2 separate regions of the Homo sapiens genome follow, and region 1 is linked to region 2. The links come from fine-mapping of genetic effects on gene expression. A gene starts in region 2. The other region holds a variant in brackets. All regions are shown on one strand. Distances are between the middles of the regions.

Region 1 (5,509 bases), 58 kb after region 2:
GCAACAGAGCGAGACTCTGTCTCAAAAAATAAATAAATAAAATTAGTAGAACAAATAAGGCTTCCTGAGGTGATGTATGCCCCTCGGTTTATCAGAAGTTACTTAATCTGCTACCTTAAAAAACTCAGAAAGCAGGCTAGGCACAGTGGCACACACTTGTAATCACCTGAGGCCAGGAGTTTGTGACCAGCCTGGCCAGCATGGCAAAACTTCGTCTCTACTAAAAACACAAAAATTAGCCAGGCATGGTGGTGACGCCTATAATCTCAGCTACTCGGGAGGCTGAGGCACGAGGATCACTTGAACCCAAGAGGCGGAGATTGCAGTGAGCCCAGATTGTGACACTGCACTCCAGCCTGGGTGACAGAGTGAGTGTCTCAAAAAAAAAAAAGTAAAACAAAAACACCCAACAACTCAAAAAGTGACAGATCTGGAAGGGTGGATTTTGATATGAAAAAGAGGAGTAGAAAGTATAGGTCAGACCAAGTTTAATCCAAATCCCCTGATCTTTTTCCTCTTCAACAATTATCGGTGCCTTATTACTGAGAATTTAAAACATCTACTTAACTAAGAAGTTGGTCAATGATGGGAAGCTGGAAGATCAGTATGTCAGAAACTCCCTGTTTTTTTCTCTTTTGCCCTTGTGGCAACCCTTAAGGAGGATCCTGGGAACATGGTAAAAGTCACTGCTTTAATAAATTCTATAAATACCATGCACATAAATAGAAGCTTCTAAGTCTTCAACAACCATTGTTTTTAGCACACACACACACACACACACACACACACACACAAAGATTATGAGATAAATACACATTGGCCTTCAAGGTCAGATTCTCTTGTAACAATCCCAAGCTATTAACTGGGAGAGTAATTAACTTGTAATTTAAGCACATTTTAAATAGCTTAACAAATCTTTGTCCAGTGAAGCATTCCTAGAGGAGATGCCATACCTCTAGATTAATCTTAAATGTTCTCAGCTGTATGTGCAATCTGAAGTTTGCTCCAAATTACCAAATCCAGGTTCTACTTTTCACCATTCCATCGATTTTCTTCAGTTTGTATGCAGATTTCTGCCAAGCCGGTGGTCTGTAGCTTGCAATTGACAACACCTACCAGCTGTTAAATTTACACATCGCTCCAATTTAAATGCTTAATTGCTCTCAGTGCACTCAATTTACAGCTCATAAACCCCTCTCAGATGGCCCCTAAACCTCTGCCAATAATAGATTCTAAAGTTAAATGAACCATAGTGTCCCTTGGTAGAAAATTAAATATCAGAATAATCTTATACTTTTGGAATGTTTATAATTATTTGTTGGAAAAAATTAACATCTGAGGGTTTTCTTTTTTATTTTATTTTTATTTTTTATTTTTTGAGACAGGGTCTTGCTCTCTCAGCCAGGCTAGAGTGCAGTGGCACAACCATTGCTCACTGCAGCCTCAACCTCCAGGGCTCAAGCAATCCTCCTGCCTCAGCCTCCCAAATAGCTGGGACTACAGATGTGTGCCACCACACCTGGCTAATTTTTTACTTTTTTGTAGAGACAGGGTCTCACTATGTTGCCCAGGCTGGCCTTGAACTCCTGGGCTCAAGTGATCCTCCCACCTCAGCTTCCCAAAGTACTGGAATTACAGGTGTGAGCCACCTTGCCCAGCCATAGGGTTTTCTTTAAGTTAGCCTTGGAGAGAAATAAAAGTTTCAACAACTGTCATATCTTCTACCAGTCTCTTAGCATACTTGTCTTTGAAACTGGAACAGAAGGTTGTTACCTGCCCTTATATTTGTATAGTGTCCTGGATGACAGGGAGGATAAAGGAAATATTAAATATTTTATGGACAATGACTATATCATTACACACTATCGCAATGTCAATGGCATCTAAGATAAAGAATACAAGTACTGTAAGTGTGGTATTCTGGTGGGAGAATCTGTGAAGGCTCTTCTACTGTCTGCCTGCCCCCTTACCTGGGAAAGTGAATGTTGAGTTTGAAAGAGCTCATCTCATTCAACTCCCTCTTTTTATACATGAGGACACTGAGTCCCAGAAAGCTCAAGTGGATTGCTCAGCCAGTGAGTGAGGCAGGGCAGGACCGGGATCTCAAGTCATGGCCTCTTCAGACAGCATCTTAACCACTTGATCTACCCCAGTTTGTTGCCATCAGCATCAGAAAGGAGAAAAGGCAGAATTCAAGTAAGTCTTTCTTAAACCTGTACAAGATACAGAAATAAATTTTTATTCAACCAATGATGCATACCCAGGTACTTCCTGCTTTAAGCCGAACCGTATATGAAAATAGAGATTTACACGAGGCTAAATTACAGAGTTCTTCTT[G/A]ATCTAATTAAAAAGGATTCATTATTGGATTCCCTTAAATATCTAGCACCTCTAGTGAATTTTTAAGTTCACTTATGCCAGCCCCAAAACACGTTTATTATGTAAATTAAGGTATTTATGCATTTTAACTGATTAGCAAGTGTTTATAAAGTACCTAACACTATGCTAGGTGCTATACAATTTTTAAAAATAATAAGTTTAATATAAGCCATGTTCCCTGCTAACAAAAACTTTACATGTTAGTGTGGGCACAAGACAAATGAAACAACTTGAAAACAAAACAGTATATAATGAAGTGTTAAATTGTATAATATGGAAGGCCATGTATAATAAAGGTGAAAAAAAAGACAAGTGAAACACTTTACGAAATTCAAACACCTCTGAACTCATTTCATTTGTGTGTTTTTCTTTTTATTCATGGGCTAGCAAACGGAAACAGGTTAATGGCAATGTAGATGAGAAACTGTCCTTTACTCCCTTTGAAATACGGTCATTAGACAGATTTGTAAGTTTTGACACCTCCTAGTGGCAAGTCATAGTAACTGTCTGTCTGCACTTAATGTTCTGTAACAATTTTTGATGCCAAAAAACGGTGAAGAAAACTTTAATTTAAATTGACTTTTCAAAGTTTTCTTTGAATAAGAGAGGCTGAGTAGTGTAGTGGTCAAGCACATAATCTCTGAGCTAGACTGCCTCAATCCAAACATCAGCTTTGCCACTTACTAGCTATTTGAGCTTGGGCAAATGTTCTCTGTCTGCAAAGTGGGAATAATAGTAGTACTTTCTTTATGACATTATAATGAGGATTAACTGAGAGAATACTTGAAAAGCAATTAGAATAGTGCATCTCACATAGTAAGCATAATATAAATGTTTGCTAAGTAAATTAGAACAAATCACAATAAAGATCATTCTTATATTTAGGTTATACTGATTATAATTTACACTTTTGCTAACTTGGGGAAATTATTTAACTTCTCTGGGCCTTGGGTCATTTACTGATGAGCAATTGGCCGGGTGCTGTGGCTCACGCCTGTAATCCTACCTAGCACCTTGGGAGGCCGAGGTGGGAGAATCTCTTGAGCCCAGGGGTTTGCCACCAGCCTGGGCAACATGGTGAAACTCTATCTCTACGAAAAAAAGTACTAAAATTAGCCAGGTTTGGTAGTGTGCACCTCTAGTCCCAGCTACCCTGGAGGCTGAGGTGGAAGGATGGCTTGAGCCCAGGAGGCAGAGGTAGAAATGAGCTGAGATTGCAACACTGCACTGCAGCCTGGGTGACAGAGCCAGACTCTGTTTCAAAGTAATAATAATAATAATAACAATAATAACAACTATGTGTCAGTAAATTTTTAAAAAATAGATTTTCTTTTCTTTTTATTAAAAAAAATTTTTTATAGAGATAGGGTCTCACCGTGTTGACCATGCTGGTCTCGACTCTTGGCCTCAAGCAGTCCTCCCACCTCAGCCTCCCAAAGTGCTGGGATTACAGGTGTGTGCCACCATGCCTGGTCAGATTTTATTTTCTAGAACGGTTTTAGATTTACAGAAAAATTGAGCTTTGAGGAGTACTGGTCAAGTGTCTTGGAGCATGTTCTCCAATTGGAATTTGATGTTTTTCTTGTCTTAGATTGGGGTTATGAGGCCACAGGAGGAAGATCATAGAGGCAAAGTGCCATTTTCATCACATCGTATCCCTGGATATACAGTCATCATGATTTATGACACTGGCTGAAGTGGTTTTTGCCAAGTTTCTCCACTGTAAAGTTACTCTTTTTCCTCTCTTTCCATAATCTTTGGAGGGAAGTCACCATGTGCTGCCCACACATAAGAAGTGGATGTATGCTCCCTTTTTGGAGGGTGGCAGAGTATCTACATAAATCACTTGCAATTCTTCTGTATGGACAATTTGTCTCTTCCTCCCACTTATTAATTTATTCAATTATGTATTTATAACATTGTTAACTCATGCATACTTGTTTTATACTTTAGGTTATAATTCAGTATTACTTTTATTTTATTTTTTTTTGCTCAAATTGTTTCCCCTTTGGTCACCGGGAACTCTTTCAGTTGGCTCTTATGCCCCTTTGACATAATCCAACAACATGATTTTTTTTTTCTAGCACTTCCTTACTTTTCGGCACTGCAACATGCTCCAGGTACATCTTGTGTCTTTCCTTCCCCAGTTCTAGAATCAGTCATGTCTCCAAAAAAACCCTTAGTTCCTTTTGTTAGATAATGGTATTAGGAACCGAGATCTGGATGGTAGGTGTCTGTGTACTAGAGAATATGCTAGGTCTTTTAGGACTTCTCTGCTAACAGATCAAATAAATAATTGTGTGGATACTAACCAGTGTATATACATCTATCTATAAATATTTTTATATAGGTCGGGTGCAGTGGCTCATGCCCAGAATTCCAGCTACTGAGAAGGTTGAGGCGGGAAGATCTCTTGAGGTCAGGAGTTTGAGACCAGCCTGGGCAACATAGAGAGACTCAACTCTAAAAAATTAAAAATAATTTACCTGGATGTAGTGGTGCATGCCTGTAGTCCCAGCTGTTCAACAGGCTAAGGTGAGAGCATTGCTTGAGCCCAAGAGTTCAAGGCTGCAGTGAGCTATGATCACACCATTGCGCTCCAGCCTGGGCAATAGAACAAGACCCTGTCTCTTAAAAAAACAATCTATATCCAAATTAAACTAAATATGAGTTCTTACTGATGTGTCTAACTTTAATCCATTAATATATGGATCATTCTAGCTTTTTCTCCTTGCTTATCTGTAAATTCCCACTCCAGCAGTGAGAAACCTGGTTCCTACAATCTGCCATCTATTTACTCAATCATTTAGTTCCAGTACACATGTGTAGCAGTATCAGAATTGTTAACCCATGCCCCCAAATGAAACAACTTTATCAACTAAAGCAGCATTATTTTTTTAATTTGTTTTTATTTCAGTAGCTTTAGAGGTAAAAGTGGTTTTTGGTTACATAGATACATTGTACAGTGGTGAAATCTGGGCTTTTAGTATATCTGTGTGTAGTGTACCCAACAGGTAATTTTTTCTCCCCACCCTCCTTCCACCATCCCTCGCTTCTGAGTCTCCAGTGTCCATTATACCAGTCTATATGCCTTTGCACATCCATAGCTTAGCTTCCACTTATAAGTGAGAAC
Region 2 (5,227 bases):
CTTGTCTCTTTTTACAGAAAAAAAAAAAAAAAAGAATGGTTACATAAAAGCTCACTATTCTATTCTGCTCACTTTGTATTATGTTTGAAATATTCCTTAAGTTTTTTCTACCAAAGTGTAAAAACAAAGTAATTTTTTTAAACAACAAAACGTTCCTAATATCCATTTTTTGTTGTTTTTTGACACAGAAGCAGAATCTTATATTTTAAAAAGACTAGAGAGGTCACTATCTTTCATTATTCTATTGCAATGTTATATGAAAACAGAAATATGACAGAAGACATGGTATGTGGTAAAAATGAATACTTCATCTTAAATGTACAAAAAGAATCTGAACTTCCTCAGTTCTCAGGCATTTCCTCATCCTTGGATTCCTGTGGTTTCCATGGTTAATGAATGTAACAATTCCTCAATACATGGATGCAATAACCCCTACTACTGTGCTGTCCAATACAGTAGCACTGCTACATATGGCCATTTAAATTTTAGTTTTAATGAATTAAATTATAAATTCACTTCTTAGTCTCACTAGTTACATTTCTAGAGTTCAATACCCACATGCAGCTAGTGGCTACTGTACTGGATACAGCAGATATAGAACACTGCCATCACTGGAGAAATTTCTACTAGATAGCACTACTCTAACATATAAGAAATATCCACAGGGAAACTTTTACATTCCAATTTAGGATGGTTATACTGGATTTCACAGCAATAAACAAATTTTCCTGAAGAACAGGGAAAACAAAGTACAAAAATATTAACCATCAAAGATCGTTCATGGAAGTGTCGACTAACTAAAACAGCAGTTAAGTTTTACTTTCAGAACCATCAAGCTACAGATGTTGGTCATGGCAACTCCTCAGAGGCAAATTTCTCTGTTAAAATATAGATTAACAATATACTGTCAGTTTCCTCAAGTCAGATGTAAAGATTATGCTGAAAAATGATTAAAGCAAATTATCCTTCAAAGATCCCACAAAAAGGAATATTTATAATCCATGAAATCAAAGAGTTAATGACCCACAGTAAAATACACAGAATGTCTTTCCTAACAGAGCTTTGAGGCAACGGGGATGATTTAAAGAACTATTAAATATAATTGTGTCATCTAGAAAAAAGGCTTAACAAGATGATTTCTGTACAACTAGTTCTAAAACTGTGTATGCATTTCATCCTGATAGTTACACATTTCCGTTAATACCCACTAACATTATAAATGTAGTATCAGGAAGCAGGTGTGTTCTTAATTCAAATATTTAGAACATTTTTAGCACTTTAAAAAACTGCAGGTGAACTAATTTTAAAATGTGAATTCAAATACATTTTTATATTTAGGAATCTGAAAAAACAAGTCATTTTGTATTCCCTCTCAAGTTATAACTAAACTATAGGGCACTTAAAGCCATCAGTCAAAACAACTCCCTTTAAAGCATTTTCAAATCTTAAAAAGGTTATTGTGAATTTAATTACATTTTATCCACATTAACTACTTCTACATACAACTATCTTTGAAATTTACTGACAAAAAAAAAAAAAAAAGGAATTCCCAAGAGAGAATGAAACCATGGAAATTGAAACCAGCTTGTAGGCTAGGTATACAGGAGGGTCACATGGAATCCATCTGAAGGAGAAAGTAACTACTATTACTACCGGAGGTTCTGAAGTCAAATTAAATCAGGTACTATTTACATATTTCTAGCTCTGTACTGACCTCACATGGTGCCTTCCTATGTATTACACACAGGCCTAGCTAGGTTTTCACATTTAAGTTAGTGTTACATGGTTTCTATCTTTAACCAAAGTTAAATGTTTTAAAGAATAGAGTAACATTCCATAAGCCTTTTCCCATTGTTCACAAACCCTTGCTGTTAGTCAGATTACCCCGATAAATCCATCTGTTCCCTCTAATTGCTTCCAAAGAAAAATTCTAGCAACCAAGGACACCAGATTGTAAAACACAGAGTTAGAGTTCTGGCACTACCGAAATATGTTAAGAAATCTTGGCAAATTGGTTAAAATTCCTTGAGCCGTAATTACCTCAGTTGTAAAAATGAATACAATACAAATCTACATCCTAGACGTAGATTATATGAGTTAGGTTTAATTAAACACAAGAAAAGCCTCATATTTTTGGTGAGCTCCAAATATAAGCTACCTAGCTTTCCCCCATCTCACTTTCCCTCCCACCGCTTCCCTTTAAGCTTTCAGGTTGTGCTTCCAACCTCCACTTCAGTGTGTTCCCCTTATCCTTACCAGCACTTACACTCGACCCCCTTTACTCCAATTCCATACAATTCCACCCTCCGATTCCAAGCTGCTACTTCCCTTTGCGCACTGCTAAGGTCCCAGGCAGCCCTCCACTCTGCTCCCCACATTTCCCTCAGCCCCCATTTCCCAACGGCTCCTCCTCTCGGCTCCCCACCCCCTCGTCACCAGGTTCATCCTGCCCCTCCAACCGTCTCCCGCCCCCAGGTTCCTTCCTGCCCTCCAAACACAGCTTCCCCGTCTCAACGTTTCATCTTGTTCCTCCAACAGACTCCCCCAACGACCTCCTCGCTCCTTTAGTCCCTATTTTCTCCCAACACTCAACTGACTACTCCTCTTCATCCATTCTTTTCAATATACACATAAATGCAAAGGCACCCACATACAGGAGCCCCCACCCCCACCTTGGTCCTCCATCTTTCCCTTTTATACTTGCTTCCTTTCTTCCTCCTTCCCCCAACCCCCATCTCCTCCGGAAGAGTCGGTTCCCAGGCCAAGGTCTCTCACCTCATTCGGTCACTTCAGTGGTGCCAACCGCTTCATACAGGAAAAAACAACCAATCCGTCCCCGTGGGCGCTTCCCCTGCGAGTCCGAGCACTTACTGGGCACCCGCCCCACCGGGTACCCGGCACATATGCACGCACAAACCGAGGTCCTTGGAGACAAGGGTTGGGGGTAGAATGAGCGTTCTTACACCGGCCTCAAACACAGCCCACTTCAATACAGCCCCTCGCCATTTTGGTTTCCCGCGGACTGCCGGTGCATTCTGGGAGCGCGGAGCGACTCCGGTGCCGAATGGCAGCTCTCCAAAGCCGCGGGGGGGCAGGGACTGCGCGGCGAGCGCGGAGGAACACCGCGCCCTGCGTCCCCGACTGGGGCTGAACAAAGAAGGACTCTTTAACGTTGCAGTGAGGCTCAGTCCTTCCGCCGCCGGGGCTAACACAATAGTGAAAGCTGCGCTCCTGATCGTCGGCAGGCTGGCACTGTTATACAGGAAAAGGGTCGTGTGCGACCTTCGGTGTGCGTGGTCGTAACGGTGCTCTGTGCATCTTGCTGGGCCGATTTCTTTTCCCTGGAGAAAACCTTAACTGAAGCACGTTTCCTCTACTTTCATCCTAAGGCCTGCTGTTAGAATTTCCTTCAGAGGGGAGAAGACCCAGGATGTCGAGATTAAATTTTATTCAGCGATTCACTGTCCAGTCCCAAACTCCTTATCAGGAGCTGCTTTTATGAAAGACTTTCAGACGATTTTTTTCCTAACGATGAAAGGTTGTTTTCTGTTTACCCGCTTTGCAGTCCTTCCTAGTTGTAATGAAATCTGAGAATAGTCCCCTGCAAAATGGTTTAAGAAAACAGAATTGTTTATTAGTGCAGACCCTTAGCCTGCCCAGATTCTGCTGCCTACAGGGGTCCCAACTGACAAGCTGTGAGATTGTATGCTTGTCTCTTTAACTTACACCTAGATACAACCCAGCTCCTCTTAGTAGCCACGTGTGGAATCTTTATTTATAATTTCGTCAAAATATTTTTAAAGCCATTTTATATTTTTGTCCCATATTATGCCACAGGGATAGTGAACACCATATTTTTTCTGTCTCTGAAAAAGTACCTTTTGTGGTCTAAGCTCATTTGGCTCATACTTCAAAAGGGGTTCCCTCAGCCTGTGATCTCAGAATTTGGCAAATAAGCATATTCGTTTTATCCAATACCATTCAATACTTTAAATATTGTGGTCATACCCTTCCACTCCTCTGCTTCTCCTGAATAATAGTCCTAATCTTTTAAGTCTGTCTTCTTACTGTACCCTCACTGTATCTACTTACCTACTACCTTTCAGGTTTCACTTTATTTCAATTCTCATCATCGTCTCTCATAAATTCGTCTTAAGTGACCTTCATACGTTGGCTGAGGAAAATTTTGACTTAAAAAAAGCAGATGCAGCCGGGCGCGGTGGCTCACACCTGTAATTCCAGCACTTTGGGAGGCCGAGACAGGCAGATCACCTGAGGTCGGGAATTCGAGACCAACCTGATCAACTTGGAGAAACCCCGTCTCTACTAAAAATACAAAAATTAGCCAGGTGTGGTGGCACATGCCTGTAATCCCAGCTACTCGGGAGGCTGAGACAGGAGAATCGCTTGAACCCAGGAGGCAGAGGTTGTGGTGAGCCAAGATCGTGCCATTGCACTCCAGCCTAGGCAACAAGAGCAAAAACTCCATCTCAAAAAAAAAAAAAAAAAAGTAGATGCATTCCCATTCAGGAACGTGGCATTAAGGTAAATAAATAAATAAAATATTAAAAAGTAGATGCAGTACAAAAATTAATAAAGATATTGCACAAACAGATATATTTGCTGTGCAGCTAAGCCTAATCAGAGAACATCTGTTTTGGAGAACGTTTGGTCTAAGTTTTCCTCAACATTTCTGTAAAGTGGTCACCAAGCCTCAACTTCAAAATCTTCAGTGATTCAATACTTCAGACGCATTCATTTCCACCTCAGAAACTCTAATAATTTAGGCTCTTTGGCTACACAAAAGTATTCTAATCCCTTATACATTAGAGAAGTAAATTATGCCTCTATCAAAAAAAAGTGTTATTTTTCTGTGCAAACGTGTGAGTACAAAGGTGTAAGCAAACCAAGTGTTCAGAGATTTAAGGACACTCAGGGAGTCACAGTCAAGTATAAAGAATACCTGTCAGCCAGCCACCAGCAACTCACTCCTGTAATCCCAGTACTTTGAAAGGCCAAGGTAGAAGGATCACTTGAGCTGGGGAGTTCCAGACCAGTATGCAGTCTGAGCCACATAGTGAGACCCTGTCTCTACAAAAAATTTAAAAATTAGCTGGGCCCCTGCCTGTAGTCCCAGCTATTCAGGAGGCTGAGGTGGTAGGCTTACTTGAGCCACAGTGAGACTGCCTCAAAAAAAAAAAAAAAAAAAAAAAAAACCTGCTGTAGT

The links. PIP is the estimated chance that this variant, and not a neighbour inherited with it, causes the effect.
Region 1: its variant is the best candidate, but not a certain one, in a credible set for the expression of MTF2 in whole blood (INTERVAL, PIP 0.63).

The regions. Positions count from the first base shown.
Region 1 is chr1:93,019,108-93,024,616 of GRCh38, reverse strand. No RefSeq gene overlaps it. Among named protein-coding and RNA genes, the nearest start is that of MTF2, 57 kb to the left of the region's middle. RefSeq lists a silencer at 2,711-3,005. The variant G/A (reference allele first, on the strand shown) is at 2,338.
Region 2 is chr1:93,077,080-93,082,306 of GRCh38, reverse strand. It overlaps MTF2 (metal response element binding transcription factor 2), which reads right to left and starts at 3,024. Exons shown (of 15, transcript NM_007358.4): 1 at 2,776-3,024. The coding sequence starts at 2,780. RefSeq lists enhancers at 2,981-3,275, 3,212-3,461.